2 linked regions of the Homo sapiens genome follow. The protein of the gene in region 2 purifies or fractionates together with the protein of the main gene of each other region. This does not show direct contact. Each region holds a gene or a part of one and is shown on either strand. Other genes may lie near its edges.

The links. Proteins that work in one complex are often made in the same cells at the same time.
Region 1: the proteins of CFAP46 (region 2) and ALDH1A3 purify together in Homo sapiens (co-immunoprecipitation; 2 studies listed by BioGRID and IntAct, with this or other methods). This does not show direct contact.

Annotation. Positions count from the first base shown.
Region 1 is NC_000015.10:100,882,823-100,889,847, reverse strand, and holds part of ALDH1A3 (retinaldehyde dehydrogenase 3), read right to left. Parts: intron 4,582-7,025; coding exon 4,477-4,581; intron 2,277-4,476; coding exon 2,136-2,276; intron 1-2,135. UniProt on the Homo sapiens protein: Catalyzes the NAD-dependent oxidation of aldehyde substrates, such as all-trans-retinal and all-trans-13,14-dihydroretinal, to their corresponding carboxylic acids, all-trans-retinoate and all-trans-13,14-dihydroretinoate, respectively.
Region 2 is NC_000010.11:132,932,561-132,939,585, forward strand, and holds part of CFAP46 (cilia- and flagella-associated protein 46), read right to left. Parts: intron 6,194-7,025; coding exon 6,029-6,193; intron 5,116-6,028; coding exon 4,992-5,115; intron 4,496-4,991; coding exon 4,401-4,495; intron 2,303-4,400; coding exon 2,192-2,302; intron 1-2,191. UniProt on the Homo sapiens protein: As part of the central apparatus of the cilium axoneme plays a role in cilium movement.

The DNA.
Region 1 (7,025 bases), on a different chromosome or scaffold from region 2:
CATGTTGTGGCAAAGAGCTGGATCTTATTTCTCGTGGGCTGCGAGGTGCCAGTGGCAGAAGTGATTTGCTGGGTTTGCATTCTGAGATCCTCCAAAGCTGTCTGCTATCAAAACACAGTCGTGCCAGGACAATGGGGCAGCCTGAAGATGAAGGTGGCTTTGTAGCCTCTGCTCCTAAGATGATACTGACACTTAAGGACAGGGTTCAGGGCGGGGGGTGCCCAGGGCACATCCTCTCTAGCCTGCTATTAGTCCACACGGACATTGCCGACCGATGAGCTCATGCCGGGTGAAAACAGAAATGTTTTTGAAAAAGCCAGTTTGGCAGCTTGAGGGTTGACGCTGGCTTACGTTGCAGGAAGAAACCAGAGGCTCCTCAGAGAGAAGCGCTTACCCTGGGAGGGAGCTACTCTCACCCGGGGAACATGTGGACTGGCCGGGCTGACTGGGAAGGAAGGAAGGGGAGCTCGAGTTTCTGTGTGGATGCACCCTTAGGGAAATGCACCCAAGAGTACGGCCTGAGAGTTCCTCCACCCTGAGAAACACATTCAGGGGCAACAGCAATTTCCGTGTCCTGGCTGACACCCTCCTTTAAACAGTGGCTACCCTACTGCTTGTTCCCGACATCAGAAAAACCATTTTTCCAAATCAAAGGCCAGAAAGGAGATCTCCTCCCCTACAACCGGGCCTCAAGGTTTGGAACAACTTTTAAAAACAAGAGGCTGAGATGGGCAAGGACAGGATGCAAAGGACCTCATGGCCCAACGTGGCCCTGAGATGTCCTCTGATCACTCCCTCATGACCAGAGGAGGGTCTGAGGATCCTGCTAAAAAATGGACTTACAACTGATGAATGCCTTGGCAGCTCAGCCTCATGGGGTATGCTCCATCAATATCCCCACCTAGGGTATCTAGAAATTACTGGCCAGCAGTGCATGTAGGTGAGGTTAGAAAATGGGTCTTCACATGACCTCATTATGATAACTGCTATTATTAATGATAGCTGTCATCTATTTAGTGCTTACTGCCTGCCAGGGACTCTGCCTAGAATCTTAAATAGATCATTCTTACACCACTGAGTTATCATTATCGGTGACATTTTACATGAAGAAATAAATCTCAGAGAGGTTTCACAACTTGTCCAAAGTCACACAGCTAGTAAGTGGCAGAGTGGGGATTTGAACCCAGGTCTTTCCTATTCTGAGGTTTCCTATAACCAGGCTATCCTGCCCTCACCACCGCTCCACATATGCTCGCTACTAGCCAGTTCAGGGGTGACTGAGGAATGATTTTAGGTCACATGGGAACAATTTTTTCTATGTTAAGTGGTGGCATTTATTTTGGTAAGTATTAGAAAAATAAAATTAGCACATCAAACCTGTGATTTCATGAATATTGTTTCTTAGGATGAGATTAAACTTAAGTTTAAAAGGGAGTTAAGGCTGGGTGCAGTGGCTCACATCTGTAATCCCAGCACTTTGGGAGGCCAAGGCCGGTAGATCACCTGAGGCCAGGAGTTCGAGACCAGGAGTTCAAGACCTGGCCAACATGATGAAACCCTGTCTCTGTTACAAATATAAAAATTAGCCGGGCATGGTGGCAGGCACCTGTAGTCCCAGCTACTCAGGAGGCTGAGGCAAGAGAATCATTTTAACCTGGGAGGCAGAGGCTGCAGTGAGCCGAGATCGCGCCACTGCACTCCAGCCTGGGTGACAGAGGGAGACTCTGTCTCAAAAAAATAAATAAAATAAAATAAATAAAAGGAAGTTTATACAAAAAAGAAAAAAGTTAAGTACATAAACACACAGGTGGTACCAGGATATGGCCCAGCTCATGGTCACCAATCTGTGAGTGCCCCAAGTCTGAGACCACTGATGTAGCTCAACTGCCTATAGACAACAACTTGGTCAAGAAGCTGAGCTGCAGAGGACAAAAGTCTGACTTCAAAATGAAAGGGATTCAGTCTAGAGGCATTAACACCTGCAAGTATTGCCAGAGAGCCGTGTCTCAGAGGATGGAACAGACCCACGACCACACAAAACCAGGACCGTGATCTTTTTTCCCATACCCCATGGTGGACAGGACCCTCAGTGAGGCTGGCTCATCCCCCACCGGCCCCCAAGTGCATGTACTCACGGCCAAGGTGGCGCGGTCCCTCTCCACCAGGTCAGCCAGCTGGTGCAGCAGCCGCCCACGACTCAGGGCATCCAGCCGGCGCCATGGCGAGCCCCTCTGGAAGGCAACCTGTGCAGCCTCCACAGCCTTGTCCACGTCGGGCTGAGCGACCAGAACAACAGAGAGAGACTGTCATCTTTTGACGTGACTGCAGTTTGGGTGTCATCTTTTGACGTGACTGAAGTTTGGGTGTCATCTTTTGAGGTGACTGCAGTTTGGGTGTCATCTTTTGACGTGACTGCAGTTTGGGTGTCATCTTTTGAAGTGACTGCAGTTTCGGTGTCATCTTTTGAGGTGACTGCAGTTTGGGTGTCATCTTTTGAGGTGACTGCAGTTTGGGTGTCATCTTTTGACGTGACTGCAGTTTGGGTGTCATCTTTTGAGGTGACTGCAGTTTGGGTGTCATCTTTTGACGTGACTGCAGTTTGGGACCACGGCCATCAGTTATAGAGAACAGCAGATTGTCCCGCTGGCAGACAGGCTGCAAGCAGCAGCATGTTTTTCAATCACTTGAATGGCTGGGAGCGTTCAAGTGATTTTTTTTCTTCTTTACATCTTAATATTTCTACAGTGGCCAAATACCAATGTTTGTTTCTGATTATAAAAAGCATTTAAAAATATTTCCTAAAGAGTATTTTTCTCAGGGACCCAAGTACGGAAGGACTTTCCACTGGCTGCCTCAGTGTGAACGCACACGAGCCTGCTGTTCACAGATCAGGTGGGAAGTGTCTGCCTGGCATTTGATCCCAGCTGGGAACTTGTGGTCCAAGAGTGAGAATGGGGAAATTCCTTCCTTTCTGGATTGCAGAACTGACCATCGTGGAACAGTTCGCAGACAGGGAGGAGCATGAAGGCCGTTTTTCTCCCTTCAGCCTCACCCACCCCATGGGAGCAGAACTGGATCTTTTGTGCACTGATAGAATAATCACAACGGAACCTTCTTTCTAAAAGGAAAGAAGTGAGGGCCATTTAGAGTAGTGTCACTGTCTCTTTTTCTCAGGAAAATGGGCCACATTCATCTCGAAGGCCCCTCCATGCCTCTCTCTTTCTAGGAAGGTACAGCAGGGAGTGGATGTGGGACACCAGTCAGGAGTGACTCTACCGAGTCTCTGTGTGTCCAGAGCTGGCTTGGGGGTGAGCAGAAGCTTGGCAGGGGAGATGTGGGACACTGAATTTCTTCTCCCAGGCTCTGGGGTGGAGGCCAGGACCTTTCCAGCTGCAGAGGGTGTGGTGGCCTCTGGCTCAGAACAGTCACTCAGACCAAGGGAGAAATCAAGGCCCAGGGCAAGGGTCTCGTTCTCCTCCTAGCACCTGTACGGGGCACTTGGGAGTCTCCTAGTGGAAACCCCATTCCATGTCATGGCTTCCCCCCAATGCCCTCACATTTTTCTATGAGCTCCTCTGTGCCACTTTCTTTGTTAGCAGAGCCTAACTGTCATGAGGTGCCACACAGAGGGGGGTCTGTATAGGTGGGGCCAGTGTGCATTTGCACGTCTGTCACAAAAACTCATGGGCAAGATAAAATCCAAGCCTACTCTGCACACGCCCTTCACTGCATCCACTTCCAACGTCATCAGTTTGCTGACCAAGAACATCAGTCCAGCACTCCAGCAGCTAAGGAAACATTTACATCTCCCTGCCCTCAGTGGAAGGGCTTTACCTCTGCACTGACATTCAGAATAGATTTGATGGCCTTGCAATGTATAAAGGACACATTCGGAAGTCCCTTAGCTTCTGTATTACTATATAGACCTTGCACTTGCAAATAGAGTGATAAAGGTTACCGCTTTCCATGCTCATGTAAATTTCTAGGAGAAAAGAAATCTGGTGGTTACATTGTTAACTATCCCCGCATCACCCGGGTAGCAACTATTTTTTTTCCTTCAAAGTGTCTATTTTTTTCTAAAGTGTCTTCTGCCAGAAAGCTTCATTTCGTGAAACACACCAGCGGGAAATGCTTTCTGGAAAGATTCTTTAATGCCTCCAGGTCCAAATAATTGATAAAAAAAAAAAAAAAAGAAAAAAGAAAACCTTTCCTTTAGCCATATGATGAGGATAGCTGAGGTCATCCTCATAGTAGGAGAAACATCTATCAAGGGAGAATGATTCTCTGCAGAGGATCATCGGTAATTGATGCCATTCTGTGCCACACGTCTGAGAACCACATGCCAATTCACGCAGCTAGCCCAGGCCCTGCCCCCAGGATAGGCCAGTTCTGTCTTATAGCTAAGCCGAACCGTTTCCTTATCCTTTGGTCATCCATAATTGAATTACTTAGAGCAAATTTATTTTAAGTATTTACCTTATCTCCTTCTTCCACTTCACATATTTGCTCCCGAGTTGAAGGGTTACATGTAGCAAACTTTTTCCCACTCTTGGATTCGTGCCATTCATTGTTGATAAATATCTAACCAGGAAAGGAAGTGTAACCAATTAGGTTTAGATCAAAATCATATAATTTCAACATGCTAAGGACCTTAGGTGACGTCTTATCCATCTTGTCCACCTTCCTCTCTGCTGCTTCCCTCTCCCCTTCGACATCTTATAGATGAGACCCGGAGGGGAACAGAGTCCCAGGACTGCATGACCAACAGATCAACTAGGACAGACTCGAAATTCAAGTTTTGGTCAAATAAAACTATAGTCACTTAGAGATTTTTTTCTAAATTATTATTATTATCTTCAGCAATAACATGGATTCACAGAGGAATGGCTAAGTTAAATGGTTAAATAGAGGCTGTGAATGGAATCTCATACCCCAATAGACTTTGGGGGAAGAGTCAATAGGTTTATATACATAAAAGTCCCAAGCAGTCCGCCTGCCCCTGAAGGGTAAGGACGCACCGAGCACTCCCTTTCTCCTTTCAGTGGCAACACTCAGCAAGATTGATTGCCAAGGAGCTCACTTTGAGGAGGATCTCACCATCGCCCTTCAGTTTTCACCAATGCACATCAGCATGTCCCTCCCCAGCACATTCCCCTTAAAATGTGTATTTTCATAGCAAACCACCATGGCGCATGTTTACCTATGTCACAGACCTGCACATCCTGCACATGTACCCTAGAACTTAAAATAAAAGTTGATAAAATGTCAAAAAAAAAAAAAAACCCAGAAAAACCTCCGAAGCTTGATAATAAACCAGCGTTGAAGTACAAAGTTAAATGTCTGGGTTAGAAACTTTCCAGGTTACATTAAGAGATGTCGCAAATAACTGTTTATATAACCCGCAGAAATCACTTTTCTGGGAACCTCAATGATCCAGAATGCAGATGAGAATGAAAGTTTTTTTGACAAAAGACATCATGAGCAGACTAAGAAGAACATACGAAGTCCATGCACTGAAACATATGTACTATTTACTGTTAGTTTACACTAAGTTCTAATTGTCTTATTAATGTCATATTAAAAGAGAGGGCTTTTGGAAAAAACTAGGAAGAGACATGACAGACAATATACAAAACACATTCCGACAGCACGGAGGTCCCCGGCTGCCCAGCCAGAAGACACACAAACTCCTGCTACACCAACTTGGAATGGCTTCCTCATCACAGCCTATCACAGCATCAGAAGAACCCCCGTGGCAGAAATGGCTGACACGCATGTCTCTCAAGTAAAATGCCGTCAGTAATTTCTGAGTACAGAATTAGTTCATCAGGTTCCGTTTTTACATCTATCTGCATGTGGTATACATAGCTTTACTTTGCTTCTTTTTGAATTGTTTAAAGGAAGAATTGCGTCCCTCAAGGGCTAATTTCAATTATTGTGAAATTGATTCATTTGAAACATTTGACTCCCCAGTGATGACAGATGAGAGAGGGCAGCCATCTCCTAAGCATGAGTCTTGGTTACATTCTCTGTATTGGGCTTCCTGTATAAACTCCACAGCTCCGGCTTAATACCTGGGTGATGGGTTGATCCATGCAGCAAACCACCATGGCACATGTTTACCTATGTAACAAACCTGCACATCCTGCACATGTACCCCAGAACTTAAAAGTTGATAGAATGTTAAAAAAAAAAAAAACCCACAAAAACCTCTGAAGCTCATAGTGAGGAAGCCTGGTCTGAGTCGGTTGGGGACCAAGCACAGGAGGCAGACTCTGGCTGGGCAGGTGAGCAGAGACCAGCTGCCCCCCAGTTTGGAATCCAGAACTGAGAGCATCGGTCACCATTGGGATTTGCCTGTCTGGCTTCTGGAAGCTTAGCGTCTCCAATGTGAGGCCAGGCCCCCAGGGAAGCGCACCAGGAAAAGGCCAGGCTACAATTACAGGTTTATTCTTCCAGCTGAAACTAAATCCAAGAGTTCACTTTTGCCATCCAGCAAGTCATCACTTGGTAACAGCGAGAAATTAATAACTGAGGAAGAAGAGTTAAGTTAGTGCGGGGAGGAAAGTGCAGCCAGGAAGAGGGGCCCATTTGTAGAAAGATGAAATTTCGTGGGTTAGATAATAGAGACTGTCAGTGAAAATTGCTGATTCTAGGTCCTTCCTGGTATCAACTCCAAGGGGGAGGGAAAATGAGAAGGTGGCAGAAGAGAATATAAATAAGGGGGCTGAAAACAGATTACAATGATCGGATGTCTGCTATACTGCTATACTTCATCTCCAAGCATGCTCCTCCAAAAAAAATTACTGTTTGTTCATGACATTGATCTGTAACCAGCAACCTTAAAAAAAAATCAGACTGTTTGACTCTAACCATATTTTCCCATCACTATGTTTTTAATTTTGTAAAATCTTTTACTTTATACCACACTACAGTAGTAAGTAATCTTGTAAGTGGTTTCTACTGTTGATTTTTCTCTCCATTAAAACAAAACAAAAGCACAAATATAAGGAAAGGGTATATAA
Region 2 (7,025 bases):
TGGGCCTTCTTCCTCCCCACATAGATCCTGCAGCTTCCTCCTCCCCACACAGAGCCTGGGCTTCCCCACGCTCCCCACACAGAGCCTGGGCCTTCCTACCATGCGACAAGCCCGTAGGCGTGCCGCCAACCGCACCTGCAGTCACCAATCAGGGTCTTTGCAGAAACTGACAGGCTGAGGCTAAAATTTGTATCCACATGCAAGGACCCACAGTGCTCCAGACAACTTCAAGAAAGAGCACAGCGGGTGCTCTCAGCTCTCCACTCTAAGGCTTCCTGTTGAGCTGCAGGGATCAGGATCACGCTCCTCCGGTGGAGATTAGGCCAGGGTTTCCCTCCGGGACGCCTCTCTTCCAGGAGGAGCCTGTCCATTGTGTCCCTGCAGCTGCCCGCTAGATGAAGAGCAGCCGCCCACAGTGTCTCCAGACATTGCCAAATGTCCTTGGGGAGCAGGTCTACATGTCTTCTGCTGTTTCCCGGGGAGTAATCACAGTCTTACCGGGAACACAATTGGCGGCTGCTGGCAGCGACTCAACTCGGCCCTCAGTGTGGTGTGACCATCCTCCCTGCATCCCTGGGTAGCTGTGGGCAGGAGGCTGCTTTGGGGTGGGGTGCGGACGCTTCTCCGCCCCTCGTCCCTGCCCACCTCCTCCTCCCCCTGCTCTGCTGTTGGGCCCTCTCAGGTCCTGGCAGGCCTGGCATCACAACACTGGCCTCTCCGTCCTACCTGAGCTCCAGCGCACAGGCCTGCTGGGCAGGTCGGGAAGAGAGAATCCGTAAAAGTGCCTGAGAATGCCGCCTGTGGACAGACCTCGGAACAGGGCTATTTACACTGGTCCCAAGACCTCTCGTCGGAGCGCCTGGCCACAGAAGGGGATGCTCGGCCAGGGCCACGGCCACGCTTGGCCGGACTTCAGTTAGAACAACCTGGAGGGTCTGATGGAAGACGTAAACTCCTTCCAGAACAATATATCCACACACATCCCCATGTACACATGCACTCATACCCCTCCCAAAAACAGACCCACCAGCAGGCTGGCCCTGTGCCCCTGCGGCCCAGGCTGTGGCCCAGCAGCCACCCTGCGGTCCTGGGGCCCCTCCCTCGAGGAGCCTGCAGCTGAGCAGCGGAGACCTCAATGTTGGGCAGGTGCCACCTCCCTGATGAGACCACGAACGTGCTGGCGTCTGGCGCCCCTCGCTAGCACTGATGAAGCAAGCTGTCCCACCAGGACCGAGGCCTGAACCCACAGGAACCGAGTCCTCTCAACACCCCTGTGAGCTTGGGGGACCCCTTCCCCAGTCCAGCCTCGAGAAAAGACCCCAGACCAGTCAACACTGTGGCTGCTGCTGTGCCCAGGTTCCCGTCCCACAGACACAGGGAGGTCATGGATCTGTGCCCAGGTTCCCATCCCGCAGACACAGCGAGGTCATGGACCTGTGCCCGGGTACCTGAACCGCAGACACGGTGAGGTCATGGACCTGTGTTGTTTCAAGCTCCTAAGTTTGTGGGTACTTGTTACGCAGCTGCAGATAACTAATACACCTTCTCTGTTAGTTTCCCATGGCCACCAGAAAACCAAACAGATAATTTCAGCCTCCCATATCAACAAGCTTTACTTGTTTCCCATTTTCTTAAAAATATACACAGTGCTACTAAGGAGGTGACAAAATCGCTCCAGGGGCAGGGGACAAACCCCCCCACCCACCCCGTGCCCACGAAGGCAAAACCAGCCAGTGCTTTCCATGTGCTTCTGAAAGCCTCGGGCTCAGCTTCCTGCTTCCAGGATACCAGCCCAGGACTTATCCCAAACTCTCAACAGTGCCTGGAGGATTCGAGAAAGCACAGAATCCAAACAAACCAGCCTGAAAAAGGCTCCAGAGAAACCTGTGTTTTCCCACCCATGGAACGCCACGCAGCCACCAGAACCGTGAGAGGTGCCACAGTGACCTAACCATCCATATGCCTACAAACTAAACTCATGTTAAAAAGTAGGGTATGAAAGTATTCGCAAGACAGTACAAATCTCAGGCCACAAAAGACCAGACAGGACCTTACTAAAACCTCCACAATGGCTGGCTTTTGCAAAGGTGGTTCTAGTTGCTTGTTTTACATTTTTTCACATTTTTCAGTGCCTGCTAAATTTTGTACAACGATTATGAAGATGTGATATTGGAAAAATACAAACACTTACTTTTCTTCACTGATAGAGGGAAAGCGCTGGTGGTTGTAATGACCTAAGTGTCTGTAGGCCTTCCTCAGAATGACACTGATGTCACCTGGTAAATCATTTTGCTCCGCTTTTCTAGAAATAATTCAGAGAGTAATTCAGCACAAGATCCTGTCAGATTTATTCAAATTCTTCTAAGAGAAACTCTGCGTGTATGAAATTGTGTTTCTCACTGAAGAGGAGACTGAAAATAACCCCTCCTGCCTTCTTTCCTCAAATTCCTGAGATGACTTTTCACCCCTTCTGGTCCTCCTTCCCTCCATGATGCCCGGCCTTCCTACAAGGCTGGAATAGAAACACTCAGAGGGCCCAGACCCCTCGCCAGAGTCAGCACCCCACATAGGAGCCAAACACGGGAAATGTGGGGCACTCTCTCTGCTCAACGGCGATAGGACCTGGGCCAGCATTGCTCTCTCCCAGGGATGCTGCCCATAGGACACAAATACCTCAGATCTCCTCACTCCCCTTGGTATCCAAACCCACTGTGATCTCCTCACTCCCCTGAGCACCCAAACACACTGCGATCTTCTCATTCCCCTCAGCACCCAAACCCACTGTGATCTCCTCACTCCCCTTGGCACCCAAACACACTGTGATCTCCTCACTCCCCTCAGCACCCAAACACACTGAGATCTTCTCATTCCCCTCAGCACCCAAACACACTGCGATCTCCTCACTCCCCTCAGCACCCAAACACACCGTGATCTCCTCACTCCCCTCAGCACCCAAACACACTGTGATCTCCTCACTCCCCTCGGCACCCAAACACACTGCGATCTTCTCATTCCCCTCAGCACCCAAACCCACTGTGATCTCCTCGCTCCCCTCGGCACCCAAACACACTGTGATCTCCTCACTCCCCTCAGCACCCAAACACACTGAGATCTCCTCACTCCCCTCACATCCAAACACACTGTGATCTCCTCACTCCCCTCGGCACCCAAACACACTGTGATCTCCTCACAGCCCTCAGCACCCAAACACACTGTGATCTCCTCACTCCCCTCACATCCAAACACACTGTGATCTCCTCACTCCCCTCGGCACCCAAACACACTGTGATCTCCTCACAGCCCTCAGCACCCAAACCCACCGTGATCTCCTCACTCCCCTCATCATCCAAACACACTGTGATCTCCTCACTCCCCTCGGCACCCAAACACACTGCGATCTCCTCACTCCCCTCACATCCAAACACACTGTGATCTCCTCACTCCCCTCGGCACCCAAACACACTGTGATCTCCTCACTCCCCTCACATCCAAACACACTGTGATCTCCTCACTCCCCTCGGCATCCAAACACACTGTGATCTCCTCACTCCCCTCGGCACCCAAACACACTGTGATATCCTCACTCCCCCCGGCCCCCAAATACACTGTGATCTCCTCACTCCCCTCAGCCCCCAAACACACTGTGATCTCCTCACTCCCCTCGGCACCCAAACCCACTGCGATCTCCTCACTCCCCTCACATCCAAACACACTGTGATCTCCTCACTCCCCTCGGCACCCAAACACACTGCGATCTCCTCACTCCCCTCACATCCAAACACACTGTGATCTCCTCACTCCCCTCGGCACCCAAACACACTGTGATCTCCTCACTCCCCTCACATCCAAACACACTGTGATCTCCTCACTCCCCTCGGCATCCAAACACACTGTGATCTCCTCACTCCCCTCGGCACCCAAACACACTGTGATCTCCTCACTCCCCTCGGCCCCCAAATACACTGTGATCTCCTCACTCCCCTCAGCCCCCAAATACACTGTGATCTCCTCACTCCCCTCTGCCCCCAAATACACTGTGATCTCCTCACTCCCCTTGGCATCCAAACACACCATGATCTCCTCACTCCCCTCGGCATCCAAACACACCATGATCTCCTCCTACAGGCTCTTTCTGCACTTGGCTTAAAGCCGCCCTCTCCCTTCTGTGGCCTCACTGGCCTCTCCTCTGTGCTGGGAGGGAGGCAGGGCCAGGAATTGGGGTGGCCTTCGGATCCCCACACCCTGAGGTCTCCCAGGCTCCTATTCTCCAGCCCCACTCACTGCAACTCCAGACTCACAGGCCCCTGGACACAGGACCTCCCCCCATGGAGGGGACAGAGCTCTCCCAAGCCCAGCACTTGTGAAACTCAGTATTTGCTCTCCCTCCCAAAACGACTTACGCCTTTAGCATATTAATATAGAAAGTGACTGACAGGCTAATGGAATTTTTCTTTTCTTCCTTTAACTGAAGTTCGTCCATTAATTCATGACGAACCTGTCATAAAATGGAGCAGATTATTAATCTGGATTCAAACAATTCGGTAGAGGTTCAGATTTTGTGTCTAGATTTTATTTTCTCATTAATTTTGTATCTAGCTTTTCAGATACAACTTAAGCTGATTCCCCATATGTCAAAATGGACTGCTGATGAATGAATGCTTTTGGTACATATTCTTGTAGTAATTACTTGTATCTTTGTGAATTTTCTATTAACTTTAAAAAAATTCAAAGCTATTACAAAGGAAATATTTAAAGAGCGACGATAAAGGCAAAAGACCCTGTTTTGTTTTCTAAATGTCACAGTTCTATACATCTTTGCATTGGATGAACTGCTATTTCTTTTTAATATGCTTATGTAATTTTGTTCATGTATGTATGCATATAGATTTTTATATCTCTCAGCAAACTTATGTAATTTCTACGCAGTTTTCTGAACAATGACTTTTAAGAAAATTACTTCTTACGTCTCTATTTCTAATACGCTGATTTACCATAACAGAGAATATCTGCCGGTATTTCTGTGGCACGTGAGACTTAATGAACGGAGCTGCCGTGGAGCAGAACCTGGCAGCCTCCTCCTTTCTTCCGGCTTGCAGATAACACTCCAGAAGTTCCCTGGATAATAGAAACACACCACTGGTCAACCTGGTTGAAACTGTTTTCTCCTATCTAATAACCAGGTTATTAAACCATTACATATTTTGTGTTTCACAAAGTTTAAAAGCTACCCTGGGGTCAGCTTCTTCAGCCAGAACCAGGCTGTGTGGCTCACCAGGAAGGGCCAGCAGGTGCCAGACAGCTCGTTACCGCTAGCACCGGGGCATTTTGAAATGAAAGATCTGTATTGATATTCTTCAAAGGTTCCCCAAACGGCCATATGGCAAGTAACCAACACCTGCAGGCTGTGGGCTTGGTGCCGAGGGGAGCTGCTCTGGAGTTGGCACAGCTGGAATCCTCAATGGGGACATCCACCCGTCCCCAGCCTGCACAGAGAGTGCCGCAGACACAGAGAGGCTCGGACCCGTTTCCTTTCCGCCGCCCGGCACAGTGACCGAAGCATTGGTGACAGCCTGTGCGGTGACCCCTCAGGGCTGAGACCCAGCAAGGCCGGCCTGCCCTGTGCTGCCCCAACTTCCTCGCAGGGCTGCCTGGGCTCCGCATGTGCTGACTCTGCTTAGTTTTACGCTGTTAAAACGTCTACTGCGTTACCATTTTAAGAACTAAGATTGTAAAACCGTGAGCCAGGCTGCGTGGGGCAGGATCATATCTGCTTTGCTGGGAGTCTAAACACAGTATCTTGTTCTGTTGTCATAACCTCATAACCAGGGCACGGCAAATGTCATCTACAGATTTTGGAAACGACCTTCGGACAAGACACACAGAAACTTGTGACTGTGGGAGAGAACGCACATGGAGTGTGCCCCAGTGATGTGGAACTCCCGTCCCCCCCCCGGAGAAGGGGTGGTGGCCTCAGAGCCAGAGGGCGGCCCACCGGGAGGCCACAGAGGGCACGGCGAGCTCAACTCACAGCATCAGCTCAGCACGCCACTCCTTGTCTTCCTCCTCAGTCTGACTCAGCACGTTTATGATTTGGGAAAGGCTGGGGATCAGATGGTGACGATATCCAGGCTTGAGGAACGGCCTCACCATCTGCCAGTAGAGGACTGATGCATTGTACACCAAAAAGTAGTACCTGCGGCGCGAGCAGAGGAAGCAGAGAGCACGCTCAAAGCCCAGCCGGCCCAAGCTGCAGAACCAAGGGGCCGCTGTGTCTCCGGAGCCCCTCCCAGGAGGGGCCTCAGGTCCTCTCCAGCAGATGGCAGCAGCCCCACCTGAGAAGCTTTGGCCCAGCCTGCAGGAGCACCAGGATGCAGAGCCCTTCCCTGGGACAGCCTTGGGCGACCCTGCGTCCGACGTGCCATGGCTCCAGCGCAGGCCCGGCTGTGATGACCCGGCCACAGGCTCCCGAGTCCAGACCAGGGCCTTCTTCATCAATTATTCCACAAACTGATCGGCCCCCTCCCATGAAAATACACCACTGGGCAAGGCCTCCTCTGACTCTCAAGGGATAGACAAGAATGGGCAAGGACAGAGGGAATCAAGGAAGGCTTCCTGGAGGAGGTTACATGCCTGCTGTGACCTGAAAGATGTCAGGAGGCAGCCAAGACAGTAGTAGAGGAAAAGAAGGTCAGGAAGATGGAGGAGAAGGGAGGAACCTTTGGGAAACAAAGTTCCCGTCTGCCAGCATAGAGTGTGAAGTGGAGGAGGGTGGGCTGGAAGAGTGAGCAGAGACCCCTCTCAGGGGTCTGGGCCTCTCCCTGGGCAGCAGGGAGCATTGCAGGGACTGAAGTAAGGGAATCCGGGCCCATCTGCCCTTCTCACTCTAGGGCCACTCCACAGTGGGGCAGGCCAGCTCTGCCATGTAGGGCCTGTGTGCCTTGTGGTCCTGGGCCGGCCACCAGGTGGACCAGCACTGCTCAATGCCCAGGTGGGAGGAGGACACCAGGGTGGCTGTGGCAAGCCCA